2 separate regions of the Homo sapiens genome follow, and region 2 is linked to region 1. Evidence: fine-mapped expression QTL. A gene starts in region 1. The other region holds a variant in brackets. All regions are shown on one strand. Distances are from middle to middle. Region 1 holds the start of UNC93B1 (unc-93B1 regulator of TLR signaling). Region 2 has its middle 11 kb from the start of CHKA-DT.

Region 1 (2,847 bases):
CAGCACCAGTCACAGCGACTGGGCCAGGCATGGGTGCCTGGACTTTGCTGACCGATCAGAAACCCCTAACTCTACAGCCCCAACCCTGAAGGCCACAGTGGCTCTGGGAGGCCTCCAAGGAGGCCACGAGGAGGGTGCCACGTGAGGCCCAGGCAAGCTGGGAGGGAGCTCAGCCCGTGTGAATCTGTTGCTGGAAACCAAATGTGCCCTGAGGCAAAGTTCCTGTTTCCTTCCCCAAATCCGAGTTTCACCCCCTTCACTCTCAGGCTTCCGGGTAGAAAAAAACCTCTCCCTTGTTCCCTCGCCCCACAAACACCCCGGCAGATGGACACCTCCTGGCCCGCCGGCCTCTGTACCCCTCCGAAATGGGAGTACCGCAGCATCCCACAGGAGCAGCCGCGCCCACCTGATGAGCACAGGTGTGTAGAGCAGGGCGGCGATGGGAGTCACGTTGATGCCCATCAGCATTTTGCTGTCGATGTCGGGCAGCCCCATGTTGCCATACTTCACCTCGCGGTAGGTCTCGTCGTAGTGCAGGATCAGCTGCATCTGCAGGAGGCCTGGGGACAGGACAGAGAGCGGCGTGCAGGGAGCAGCCTAGCTTTGGGCGCCACCGAGCAGAAGACGGCATGCAGGCCTCGCAGGGAGCTCCAATCACCGAAGGCATTCCCGCTGACAGCGCCCCTCAGGACAGCGGGGTTCCCGGGCTGCGCCACGCCTTCTGCCAGCCCGCGGCCACTTGGCCAGCTAAGCCCAGACCCCCACCCGCCTTGCTCCGCCGGCCTCCAATTCTGACGGTGGCAGGTCTGTCCGGGAGCCCGGACCCCCGTCCCCCACCCACACCGAGGCTCTGGCTGGGACCCGGGGACGCTGCGCTACTTGACCCCCCAACCCCACCCCCGCCGCGGGGGGCCGTGGCTGCAGCTGCGAGGGCAGCGGAGGGGAAGTGAGAGCGGGCGGGAGGCGGCGGCCCGCGGTTTCTGTTTCCCGGGCCGGGCTGGGAGCGGGCGGGGCGGCCCCGGGTCCCCGAGCGGCACCTACCCAGGTAGACGCCGTAGGTGAGCATGCCCCCGGCGCTGGCAGCCAGCACGTTCTTGAGCACGCCCAGGCGCTTGCGGCGGTAGTAGCGGCGCTCCTCCTCCTCCTCGTTGTAGTTGGGGTACGCGCCCACCAGCTCGTCCAGCTGCGAGCCACGCACGCCGCTCGCACCCGCGATCGCGCCCCGAACCCGTGTCCCCCGGTGCCCGCCGCCCCCCGGCCCGCCCCGCCCCCGCCGGGGGGACCCTGGCCCACAGGGGACGCCCGCGCCTCGCACTCCGGGTCCCCGCTCACCGGGGCCTCGGGCCCGTCCGGGACCCCGAGCAGGTCCTCGTCGCCCTGCGGCCCCGCAGCCCCCGCCATCGGGTAGAGCGGCGGCTCCGCCTCCATGGCCCGAACTACTGCGGACTCGCGGCGGTCGCCCCGGAGTCCCTGCGACCGCCCGGCCACTTCCTCCCGGCGGCCGGGACCTGCCCCCGCCCCGCCCTGTCCCGCCCTGCGGGCCGCCTCCTCCAGGACACGTGTGTGTGTATGTGTGTGTGCGCGCGCGCGCGCGCGTGTGTGCAGGGGCCTGCCTGTGTGTGCCCTCTGGGGTGTGAGTTCGAATCCCCACTCAGCCACCTCCTGGCCCTGTGACTTTAGGAATTAACTCCATTTCTTTGTGCCTCGGTTTCCTCCGTTTCCTCGACGGTAAAACAGAAATACATGGCACTACCCCCGGGGCCATGGCGGAACTATTGAGTTAATGCAAAGCCTTGGAAAAGTGCCAGGGTTGCCTGGCTCCCTTAAGCTCCCCTCAGGGTTGCCTGGGTCGTCCCCAGCCCCACCTCCAAGCCTGCTGTTACAGCTCATCAAAGAGCACTGCAGGGACAGTAGCGTCACCACCTGGACCCCACCTCCCACCACCGGACGCTACAGCCAGAGCCCACCTCCCATGTCCCCATCCTGCTCCAGTTTGGGCTGTGCAAATGGGAGCTTGAGTGGGTCCTGGGAGGTGGAGATTGTGATCCCCACTGAACTACATGGGGGACCCTGCCACAACCATGTAGTGGGGCCCAGAGCCACCTGCCCCCATCCTGCTGGGCACTGGATCCCGGGCTGCAGCGGGAGCCTGTGGTGGGGCCGACACTCCAAAGCACTGGCTACCACCGACCTGGCTGGAGCCACGGGGCCACTTTTGAAAATATCCAGATTCTCTCCCCTGGGTTCCTTCTGGTTTGAATGCTCTTCCTGCTGCGCCTCCCAGGTGGCTTCCTTCCCACTCAGCTCTCAGAACAAGAGACCATCCCTGCAGAGAATGCAGTCCCTTCACTTCCCTTCTGGTTTTCCATGCCCTCCCTGTGCACCCCCCTCCACCCACTGCTCTTTAGGTACATCCTCTCCCAAATGCAGAGGATGGCATTGGGCACCTACTGAGTGATCAATACTTGTGACTGGATGGGTGCATGAGTGACTGGATGACAAACACCTCCCACCCCGCAAGGATTGCTGGGAAGGTGGGGGGAGGCGTGAATCTGCAGTGGCTTCAGGCTTCCAGGAGGTAGAACTTTCTCCAGGTGACGATGCCCAAGTGCAGATGTGGGGAACAGACAGGTGGATTCATGCAGGTGGGTGGCTGGAAGTGGGAGACAGGAAAGGAGCCGAAGAGAGGGCAGGGCCCGAGGCGCAGGGGCAGGGAGGAGGTGGGAGAGTATGGCTATGGCGGGGGCCGTTCTCAGATGGCAGACACCAGCATCATTACACAGTATGATGAGAAAGTGCAATTCTCCTGACTCAGCCTTGTGAGTAGCTGGAATTACAGGCGTGTGC
Region 2 (2,901 bases), 130 kb after region 1:
TTGCAGTGAGCCAAGTTTGCACCACTGCACTCCAGCCTGGGCAACACAGCGAGACTCCATGTCAAAAACAACAAACAAACGAACAAAAAGAATTGTGGAATGCTGCTCATCCATAAAATGCTAATATCTAATGGGCATTTCAGGATTTCTTGCTTTCTAGATTTATATAAAATGTGCCAAAGATGTGTTCTTATTGAGAAAAAGAAGAATTTTGTCTAATTCAGAAGTTATCTGCCCAGACGCAGTGGCTCATGCCTGTAAACCCAGCACTTTGGGAGGCCAAGTTGGGTGGATTACTTCAGGTCAGGAGTTCAAGACCAGCCTGGCCAACATGGTGAAACACATCTCTACTAAAAATACCAAAAAAAAAAAGTTATCTAAAAGTCAATTCAAATTATGGAGTTAAAAGTGGTTCTTGGCCAGACGCAGTGGCTCACACCTGTAATCCCAGCACTTTGGGAGGCCAAGGCAGGTGGATCACCTGAGGTCAGGAGTTTGAGACCAGCCTGAGCAACATGGTGAAACCCCATCTCTACTAAAAATACAAAAATTAGCTGGGTGTGGTGGTGGGCGCCTGTAATTCCAGCTACTCAGGAGGCTGAGGCAGGAGAATCTCTTGAACTGGGGAGGCAGAGGTTGCAGTGAGCTGAGATCATGCCATTGCACTCCAGCCTGGGCGACAAGAGTGAAACTCCATCTCAAAAAAAAAAAAAAAAAAAGGTCCTTAAACAAGGTTGAAAGAAACCATTAAGTAGGGGAGAGAGAGATGTGAAAAAAATTATGGATACAAAGATGTATTTTTGGCAAAGAAGCTTATAAAGAAAAGACAATACCTTTATATGAGAAAGGATCTTGTATGGAAAATTATTGTCCTAGAGTAGAATGACTGGTTATTTAAGAAAGAGGAAGGCCAGATGTGGTGGCTCACACCTGTAATCCCAAAACTTTGGGAGGCTGAGGCAGGGGGATCATTTGAGCTCAGGAGTTTGAGACCAGCCTGGGGAACATGGTGAAACACTGTCTCCCCAAAAATATAAAACTTAGCTGGGCATGGCAGCATGTGCCTGTAGTCCCAGGTACTCGGGAGGCTAAGGTGGGAAGATTGCTTAAGCCGAGGAGATTCAGGCTGCAGTGAGCCAAGATTGTGCCACTGCATTTCATCCTGAGCAACAGAACAAGACCCTGTCTTTAAAAAAGGAAAGAAAGAAGGAAGGAAAGAAGGAAGGAAGGAAGGAGAGAGAGGGAGAGAGAGAGGAAGGAAGGAAGGAAGGAGGGAGGGAGGGAGGGATGGAGGGAGGGAGGGAGAGAGAGAGAAGGAAGGAAGGAAAGGAAGGAAGGAAGACAGAGAGAAGCTGGGTGTGGTGGCTCATGCCTGTAATCCCAGCACTTTGGGAGGCTGAGGCGGGTGGATCACCTGAGGTCGGGAGTTCGAGACCAGCCTGACCAACATGGAGAAACCCCGTCTCTACTAAAAATTCAAAATTAGCTGGGCATGGTGGCACAGACCTGTAATCCCAGCTACTAGAGAGGCTGAGGCAGGAGAATTGCTTGAACCTGGGAGGCGGAGGTTGTGGTGAGCTGAGATCACACCATTGCACTCCATCCTGGGCAACAAGAGCAAAACTCCATCTCAAAAAAAAAAAAAGAAAGAGAAAATGAAGAAAGAGAGAAATAGTCTAGGACAAGTCAGAAAGTCCAAGCAGGACATAGATGGTTTGTGTAAGTTGTGATAAGATTTGTAAAGG[G/A]GAGGCCGGGCGCGGTGGCTCAGGCCTGTAATCCCAGCACTTTGGGAGGCCGAGGCGGGCGGATCACGAGGTCAGGAGATGGAGACCATCCCGGCTAAAACGGTGAAACCCTGTCTCTACTAAAAATACAAAAAATTAGCCGGGCGTAGTGGCGGGCGCCTGTAGTCCCAGCTACTTGGGAGGCTGAGGCAGGAGAATGGCGTGAACCCGGGAGGCGGAGCTTGCAGTGAGCCGAGATCCCGCCACTGCACTCCAGCCTGGGCGACAGAGCGAGACTCCGTCTCAAAAAAAAAAAAAAAAAAAAAAAGATTTGTAAAGGGGAATTTACAAAAACAGGAATTTTGTTTGTGATTAAGTTAGCTGCGATTAAAAGGAGATTATTTCTCCTTTCTAAGGAATGGTCCCCTATGTTAAAAGAAGGTCTGCTTAAGGTATTGATTTGCTCTTAATGAAATTATAAGAAATTTTGCTTTTCAATTTTTTGTTTGTTAGTTTTGAGATGGAGTCTCGCTCTGTCGCCCAGACTGGAGTGCGGTGGCGTGATCTCAGCTCACCGCAAGCTCCACCTCCCAGGGTCACTCCAGCCTGGGCAACAGAGCGAGACTCTGTCTAAAAAAAAAAAAAAAAAGGGATGAATGAGTGCCTGTCCACCTCCATTTCATCTGGCCTAGCATATTTAACTGTCTACACGTCTTTTGATTCTAAGTCTCTTGGCCACAGCGGTCCCACTTAGGGACATAATATAGCCAGGGCAGGTAGCACACCACCCTGGCATCGATATGGGGCACAATAAAAGCTTGGCCATGATACTGCCTCTGGCATACCATGACCAGAAAAAAAAAAAAAAAAAAAAAAAAAAACACATGCACCTGAAAATCTAGTTGAGGCCATGACAGGAAGTGGGTAGGGGGAGGGAGAGTCAGCCAGGCCTCACTATATTTCCTCGCCTTGGAATTCCACACATATTTTCCCTGATGGTACCACCAATTATAATTCTTCTTGTCCCCCTTGGAGGGCCTTAGTCCCTCTACAAACAACAGTGTCTTTCTCAATTCCCATAACTGCTCCCCATAATACTGGTATCACATTAAATTACTACTTTCCCCCCATCCCATTCATGCTTAAACCAAAGCACCCCTTGAATAACACAGGTACT

Evidence for each region. PIP is the estimated chance that this variant, and not a neighbour inherited with it, causes the effect.
Region 2: its variant is fine-mapped to the expression of UNC93B1 in whole blood (TOPMed, PIP above 0.99).

What each region holds. Positions count from the first base shown.
Region 1 is chr11:68,002,616-68,005,462 of GRCh38, forward strand. It overlaps UNC93B1 (unc-93B1 regulator of TLR signaling), which reads right to left and starts at 1,482. Exons shown (of 11, transcript NM_030930.4): 1 at 1,333-1,482; 2 at 1,042-1,183; 3 at 407-560. The coding sequence starts at 1,428. RefSeq lists enhancers at 35-234, 335-384, 485-534, 1,439-1,982, 1,983-2,525 and silencers at 835-1,244, 1,305-1,604.
Region 2 is chr11:68,131,275-68,134,175 of GRCh38, forward strand. No RefSeq gene overlaps it. Among named protein-coding and RNA genes, the nearest start is that of CHKA-DT, 11 kb to the left of the region's middle. The variant G/A (reference allele first, on the strand shown) is at 1,746.